Linked DNA regions of Homo sapiens: region 2 is reported to be linked to region 1. The links are microRNA targets in miRTarBase. Many come from high-throughput screens and were not tested one by one. Region 1 holds a microRNA gene; the other region holds the end of a gene's coding sequence.

Region 1 (4,067 bases):
GCTGGGAGGCTGAAATGGAACACATGTGGCTCTGAGCCAGTGAAGTGCTTTCTTGGGACTGCCCTGCTGTCCAGGAACTGAAGCTGGGTTCAAATGCTGACTGTCATTCTCTGGGCATGTGACCATGGCCAAGCTAATACACATGATGAGCCTCAGTTTCTGCATCTTTGAAAGGGTGATCATTGTGAGTATTTTGCAGAGGATTAAATGAGATAAGACTGGTGAACCACCCCCACCACCCCCCTCAACCCCCCGGATTTTTTGGCCTCATAGCTTTGCTTCTATGCATGAAGTGCTGAATGCCATTTCTGGTACTGACTCAGATTCTTCATGTGCCAGTCTGGGTACTGACTTGTGGAGTGGATAGTGGTTGAGGGAAGACAACTGGGGGTGGGAGGAATGGGAGAATGTGAGTGTCGAGGGGTGGGCTACCTCTTGGGCACTGGCAATTACATGACAGTGGAACAGCATTGCAATTTAGTTTTGTGTTTTTCATTGTAACCCAACTGGCAACAGAACAGTGATGGGAGATGGAAAGGGTATCAAATTTGACTAGTGAGTTGCCCCTTTTGGTCCCTTCCTTAGAGTAAGCCTCAGTTTCTTCATCTGCAAAATGGAACTATCAGTGCCTTCTCTGACTACCTCGCAGAGTTGCTGTGAAGAAAAAGTGAGATAAAAATGTACCTGAAAGCATTTGTAAAATGTAAAGTGCTGTATAAATGTAACTGATTATTGTTTCATTTAAAAGACATGGTTTTGTTGATATCTCATGAAAAACAGTGCTAGTCCTCCCATTTAGTCATGGCGACAACCTTTTTGTCATAAATGTGCATGGGAGAATCGTTGGTTAGTAGGTGTTTTCCTTTATCCAAGTGGTCTGAGCTGGAAAATATGGAGAATTCCTTCACTAAAGGGCCATATCTTTTGACTCTATTGACAGCATGTCATGTGGAACTCAAAACTGCCTTCGTGAATGCAGATAGATTGCATCTATTAGCTGCCTCTTGTCATCATGACCTGCCAGAAGGGAAAATAAAATGTGCCTACAAATATTTCAATATTTATGTTGTGTGAAGGTTTAATATTCATTTGGAGCAGTGAATGGGGAAAGAGAAAAAAAAGTCCACATCCTTTACTTTGGAAATTGCTCAGTTCAACAAGAATTTATTGAGTACCTACTATGAGCTAGTGAGTGAATGATATGCTAGTGTCTACCAAAGAAAGACACCAAATTCTAATATTGACAACTTCATGTTTGCATACTTTGTCAGAAGCCTTGGAGAATCCCAAGGTCAGGAGTCTTTGCTCATTCCTATGGGGGAACTGATGAAATCTGCCCAGAGGTTGGGGAAGAGGGAAGTAGGTGAAATGGCTGCAGAGGAGAGGTGTTTGTAGTAAAATTGGGGAAGAGAGGAGAGTGGGAGGGGGTGGATCAGACCTCAGAAACACACTCCTACCTGTTAGGATGTAGGTGTGTGCTTGCACTTGTGGGTGGGACCAAGAGACAGGTGTCAGTAGCCTGGAGTTATAAAAACCAAAATGCATTGAATAATTGGATGGGAAACCACACATAAGAAAAGGACTCTTAGCAAGTGTATTTTTTCCAGCAATGCAAAAGTGAATTTACAAGCATATTGTTGTAGCTGTGAAGGGGCAAGCTCTACTAAAGGGATAGATGGTACATGAAAATAAGTTGTAAAATGTTGTTAATTGAAGAATATGTTGATAATTTGTGTCACTGATATTCAGTGTTTTGAATATGTTGTCATTGTCATTTCTCATTATGTAAAAATATAATAATTTTACAAGTTCACTGGTGACTTCATTCCCCTAACCCTATTTTTTCCCCAATAAGGTCCTAAATTCCTGAAGCCTGACTTCTCCTGCCCCAGGGGTTTTCAGAAACCTAACCCCCATGGTTGGCGAGGGACTGCTGTGTGTGAAATGGTAACTGCCCTCAAGGAGCTTACAATCTAGCTGGGGGTAAATGACTTGCACATGAACACAACTAGACTGTGAGCTTCTAGAGGGCAGGGACCTTACCCTAGTCATCTCTCTTCTCACCCTGCACACCCTCCCTGAGGGATCTCATCCATCCCCATGGCGTCAACCACCACCTGAGGACCCTCTAGGCCTGAATTGTCTCCTGAGTGCCACACCCAGCTCTCCAGCATCTTCAGTGTTCCTCCCCGGGTGGAATGCTCCACAGCACTGCCAACTCAACCTGCTCACCAAAACCCAGCTTGTCATATCTCCTCTGGGCCAGCCCTGGCTTCCAGGCTCCTGGACTTGGTCCCCCAGATCAAAGATCCAGGGGTCACTCATTTGGACTGAGCTTGATGGAAAAGTGCTTATGTTTCAATGTTAAGTAAACTGGGGAGCCTATCAAATGTATAGACATGATGAACTCATTGATGTTAAGTACATAGATGGAAAGAGAAATGCTTCAGAATGTATTAGTGGTTGCCTCTAATGGTAAAATAATGATTGACGTTTTCTTTTTCTGACACCCTTGTGCTTTCCAAATCTCCTGCAAAAAGTATTTATTACTTTTGTAACCAGCAAAAATGCCTAATAAAAATGATTGACAGGTCTCCATTTGAGTGTCACCTTTTCTGGGAATTATTGTTTATTCCTTTGCATCTCAAAGAGTCTGAGGCTCCGGGGTTAGACAGCCTCAGCACGTGTGCTTACCCTGTTGGGGAACTTGTTGCACTGTGTTCTTTCTGTAAATCGGCTCTTCCATTAGTCTGTGAGCTCCGAGAGGGCAGGAATCATGGTTATTCATCTCTCATTTCCAGTGCCTAGCACAAGGCTTGCATACATAACTGCTCAATACATGCTTGTTCTTTAAAGGAAGAGAGGGAGGGAAGGAGGCAGGAAAACAAAAAGGTGAAGGACACCAGAATTCTCAAATGTTATACCTCCATGGATCCCTTGTATTATTTCCTGTCCCCAAGATCCTTTGTTTATTAAGCTTTTGAATCTACTGTACCACTGATTTTTCACTCGGTAGTTTGAATTTTTCTGTTTTTTAGTAATCATAGGCCTTATAAATCCCAATCAGAGCTTCTCAGGGCCAAGTCTGGCATATGCCACCTGCTGTCCCAAGTCTGACTTGGGCAGAGTGCCCCCTGCCTGACACCTAGGTCATGGCATGCAGGGCTATCTCCAGTTCTCTGGAGCTGAGTGTACCTTCTGGAGCTTCTTTTAAAGTGGAACGATGGCAAACTGCAATGTCTGTGGGAGGAGGAGAGCAAGGGAACAGATAACATAAGAATAGAAGTGACAATTGCAAACTTCAATTGTGTGTTTCCTCTGTGCAGGCACTGTGCTATGCATCAACACGCACTGTCCCCTCAGCCCTCACAGCAGCTCTGTGACACAGGCACTATTACAATTGCCATTTTGTAAGCAAGGAAACTGAGGCTTAAAGATGCATTAGATGGGGAAACTGGAATTTGCACTGATTGCAGAGCTTAAGTCCAGCACTGCATCCCTCTTCTGAAGTTCCAGGAAGAGCACAGGGAGGAGAGGGCAAGAGAGATGCCTGTCAGGAGAAAGGAGCAGTGTTTGCAATTTCAGAGCCTTGTTTGGGGATGTGCCAGCATAGAGGAGTTTAGCCCCGAAGGCACAAAGCCCTTCACAAAGTCTGTGACACTCCTGAAGTTGTAGGCAATTTGTTCCAGGTATGTGCATTGTCTGGGAAGGTCTTCAAAGGAGTCTGTGTGGTTAAAAAAAAAAAAAATGGTTAAGGAAGCGGACCATGGAGCAGAAAGTTGCAGTGACTGGATTCTGGCTCCAGGCTGCAAATTTAACCATTGAATATCACCCAACAGGATGGATATGGGGATATGGTCTTGTTGATAAAGCATCTCCCTCACACAAGACTTGGAGAAATAATCCTGGAGGGTGTGTGTGTGTGTGTGTGTGTGTGTGTGTGTGTGTGTGTGTGTGTGGTGTGTGTTTATGTGTCTCCCAGGTATTTAGAATCAACTGATTACCAAATCAATCAACAAATATTTATTCTAGCAGAGACTTGATAGCTCTCTGGTTTGTCAGGGTTG
Region 2 (4,067 bases), not on the chromosome of region 1:
CCGATATCGGGTAGGTTTCTAGGCCTTTCTTTCAAGATACTAAACTCTAAACCCTTTCCTAAGTGGGAAGGGCCAGAGGACATGGCATATGAGAATAGGGTTGAGAGCCAGGAATGTAGGAAGATAGAGAAGAACAGTGAGCCAATGCTAAGATCTGACTTGGGGACTGGGTTCACTTAGGCACAGATTTTACACAGCCTTCCCCACCAAACCTTTTCCCCAAATCTAATCCATAGAATGTTTACCTTCCTAATCTATCTCCTGGGTTCCTGCCTTAGCTTTTTGCCAACCGATCCAGTATCATGAGGCATTTTGGACCTGAGGACCAACGTCTGTGGAATGATGTGACAGAGGAACTGATGTCAGATGAAGAGGACAGTCTTAACGAGCCAGGTGTGTGGGTGGCCCGCCCTCCCCGTTTCCGGGCCCAGCGCCTCACAGAGCTCTGCTACCACCTGGATGCTAACTCTAAGCATGGCACCAAAGCCAACCGTGTGTATGGGCCTCCCTCAGACAGACTGCCTTCTGCTGAAGCCCAGCTCCTTCCACCAGAACTTTACAATCCTAATTTCCAAGAAGAGGAAGATGAGGGAGGGGATGAGAATGCACCTGGCTCCCCATCTTTTGACCAACCCCACAAAACCTGCTGTCCTGACTTGAACTCATTCATTGAAATCAAGGTGGAAAAGGATGAATAAAATCTACAGCCAAGAATAACTCTGGCTTCCGCCATGCCCCATGTCTCAGAAATAGGTGGCCATGGGGCTTCACAAAATAATGAGATGCTCTGTGCAGTCTGAGAAAGCAAATTTGCCTCTTTTCTTAACACAGTCTCTACTGGGGAAGCAGAACACTGGTGGGATAAAAACTTATCTAGAAGGGGAGAAACTCCCTCCACTGTGAACAGTAAGCCAGAATATGCTTATTCCTCAGCATAAACAGTATCTCGGAGAAGCCTGGGATGAGAAAATGAGGAGGATGGGTCCAAGAAACATGAGGCCTTCTTGACATATGCCCTGTCTCTGAGTTGTTTCTGCCCCTGCCCAGTTCCACCCAAAGCTCTGAGGAAGCAGCCCAGGTTGTACCTTTTGCTTCCCTGTGACTACTTGTCTTGCTCTGCAGTGGAAACCGAACATGACCAGTGCAGGTTAATACCGCCACCTGGTGGGCAGTTTCAGTCATGAGCTTGAGTCTTCTGACCAAGGGAACACAAGTTCTATCACTATTGGGGAATTGGGTTCCTGATATAATAGCTATTGTTTATTGAATTACATGAGGAAAATTTTACTATTCCTATCTTACAGATGAGGAAATTAAGGCTTAAAGAGTTCCCGTGTCTCACCGGCAGCCTCTCTCTCACTATGTGACCAAGCAAAATACACAGCTTTGTAGCTGTTTCTTGGTCCTGTCAGCCAAGCTGTATTTTGAGGAAGGGGTGTGCATTTTGGATGGATTGAAAAGCAAAAATGGCTTTACATTTATTCAGTCTTATAACAAACATTGATCGCTTTACTAGGTGTCAGGTACTGTGCTATGGATACATTGTTGATAAGGTTGGATGCTGTTCAGAGATTTTTTTAGTTTAGTCAGGAAGCCAGGCAGTGGAGTAGGCAATGAAATGAACTGTGATAAGGGTGACCATGGTGGAGTGTAGTGCACTATGGCAATATACAGCAGGGGTAGCTAACCTACTCTTGCAGTCTGGAAAGGCTTCTTCTGAGAGGGTGTAATGTCTAAACTGGGGAAGAGTTAACCAGAAGGAAAGGGGAGGCTAAGAGAGTGTTCCAAACAGGGAACTGCAGGTACAAAAGTCCAGGGGCAAGAGAGAGTACAGACAAGGTCCAGTTCTACTGCAGACTTTTGGGGAAGGGATAATGCTAGAGGAGAGGCTGGAGAGTGAGACAGACCTCATAATACAGAGTACAGACTTCAACCCAAGGGCAGTGAGAAATCATTGAAAGTTTGTTTTAGCAGGGAAATAAAACGACAGGTTTTGCCTACAGGCAGTCCCCAACTCAACGATGGTTCGACTTAGGATTTTTCAACTTTACGATGGTGCGAAATGATTCAGTATGCTCCTCACCTTATGATGCAGTTATATCAGATAAACCCATTTTAAGCTGAAAATATGGTGAAGTTGAAGAAGCACTTCTGCCTTACGATATTTTCAATTTATAATGGATGGGTTTATTCAGACATAACTCCATTGTAAGTCGTAAAGCTTCTGTACTGAAAAAAATCACTTGACCTCAGGGTATAAGATGGATTGCAGGGAGCAAGCCTTGGCCAGGAGACTTTTGCATTGGTTTCGGAGAGGAAAGACGGTGACTTGACATATATAGTGGTGATGAGGGGAGGACAGATTTGGAAGATGTTTAGGAAGCAGAATTAATAGAACTTGGTGATTGATAGGACTTGGTTGGATTTGAGGTTAAGGGAGAAGGAGGACATAGGGTTGACGCTCAGATTTCTAGTTTAAGCAGCTAACAGGATTGTGCCATTTACTCAGAGAATGTTAGAGGAGCCAGTTTCATGAGGCAGAGAAGATGAGATCAGTTTAGGATATTGGGTGCTTCTGAGACAGCCATTGGAGATGCTAGTAGTTAGTTGAGTTTTTAATTCCAAGAAAGACTGGGCTGGAAATATGGATTAGGGAGTCACCTGCATATACAGATTATAATTAAAGTCTTGGGAACGAAGAGGGCCTTTGGAGATCCCAGCTCCAGTTTAGACTGTGGAGAGGCCACCTGAGGTCATGAGCACTATTGGAGCATGCCCTATTAGCATATGCGTCTTCTACTTCTTCCCCTTCACTCATCTCTGCTTCCAGTTATCCCTTGAAAACACAGGCTGTTCATCCCAGTTGTGCCCATTGCTACCACCAACTCTTGCATGGGCCTCCTTTAATGGCCTCCCAACATTTCATAAGATTTCCTCTCGCATCCTCACCCCAAAGGATCAAAGCTTCCAAATATTAGTAGTTGTGTGGATATTTTGGATGTAATTGGAAGGAAGAATCAAAGTTCTCCTTCCTCATCTGGACACAGGAAAGGAGGGAACACATTATGGTTAATTCTGAAGATGTTGCTCACAGCAGGTTCTAGATGCAATCCGATAGCTCCCCTCTGTTCCTAGTGCTTTCAGTCCTCCCTGCTTCCACTCTGGTAGGAAACTCTCCTCAGGATCAGAGAAAAGCCGTGGCCTTGACCAGGGAAACAGAGGCTGATTCTCAGGGGAGATGAGGTCAGGGAGACAATGCAACTAGGACGAAGAAGCCAAATAGTTTGGCACAAATTAATTTCCCAAAAGATATTAACCTCGTTTCTTTCCACATTCCCTAAGGCTACACTAAGATTATAAAAGGTGTTCAAAATGTTGAGATGAAAATAATATGCATGACTTGTTTGCATATAATTTTCATACTCATTTACTATCTAAATACAAAGGAGTCATTTTCCTTCTCCATTCTACTTCCTCCACCCCTTGCCCCTGATGTTTTAGTCTGGGCAAAAGTAGTTGGCTGGTTTTTAAAAAATTTTTTTGAGACGGAATCTCCCTCTATCGCCCAGGCCTGAGTGCAATGGCACAATCTCGGCTCTCTGCAACCTCCGCCTCCTGGGTTCACGCGATTCTTCTGCCTCAGCCTCCCAAGTAGCTGGGACTACAGGTGCACGCCACCACACCGGCTAATTTTTGTATTCTTAGTAGAGACGGGGTTTCACCATACTGGCCAGGCTGGTTGCAAACTCCTGACCTCGTGATCCCGCCGCCTCTGCCTTCCAAAGTGCTGGGATTACAGGCGTGAGCCACCGCTCCCGGCCGTTGGCTGGTATTTAATTAGGTATGTTTAGCTTCATCTAGGGTTTCTTTAAAAAAAATTATTATTTATTTTTGAGAATTTTTTTGAGACGGAGTCTTGCTCTGTCGCCCAGGCTGGAGTGCAGTGGCCGTGATATTGGCTCACTGCAACCTCTGTCTCCCGGGTTCAAGCGATTCTCCCGCCTCAGCCTCTCGAGTGGCTGGGACTATAGGCGTGCGCCACCACGCCTGGCTAATTTTTGTATTTT

What was found. Region 1 holds the annotated microRNA hsa-miR-708-5p (AAGGAGCUUACAAUCUAGCUGGG, at 1,960-1,982, shown strand). A microRNA usually pairs through its seed, bases 2 to 8, with sites in the 3' UTR of a target mRNA and lowers its output. Matches are read on the target gene's strand: a 7mer-m8 pairs with bases 2 to 8, a 7mer-A1 pairs with bases 2 to 7 and ends in A, and an 8mer does both.
Region 2: miRTarBase lists C14orf93 as a target of hsa-miR-708-5p. The part of its 3' UTR that is shown has no 7-base or 8-base seed match.

What each region holds. Positions count from the first base shown.
Region 1 is chr11:79,399,992-79,404,058 of GRCh38, reverse strand. It overlaps MIR708 (microRNA 708), which reads left to right and starts at 1,950; the gene lies at 1,950-2,037. The region is part of intron 1 of TENM4 (teneurin transmembrane protein 4); the gene reads left to right.
Region 2 is chr14:22,983,846-22,987,912 of GRCh38, reverse strand. It overlaps C14orf93 (chromosome 14 open reading frame 93), which reads left to right. Exons shown (of 7, transcript NM_021944.4): 6 at 1-10; 7 at 279-2,019. The coding sequence ends at 698. It overlaps AJUBA-DT (AJUBA divergent transcript), which reads right to left and starts at 3,589. Exons shown (of 3, transcript XR_007064074.1): 1 at 3,093-3,589. RefSeq lists a silencer at 1,073-1,182.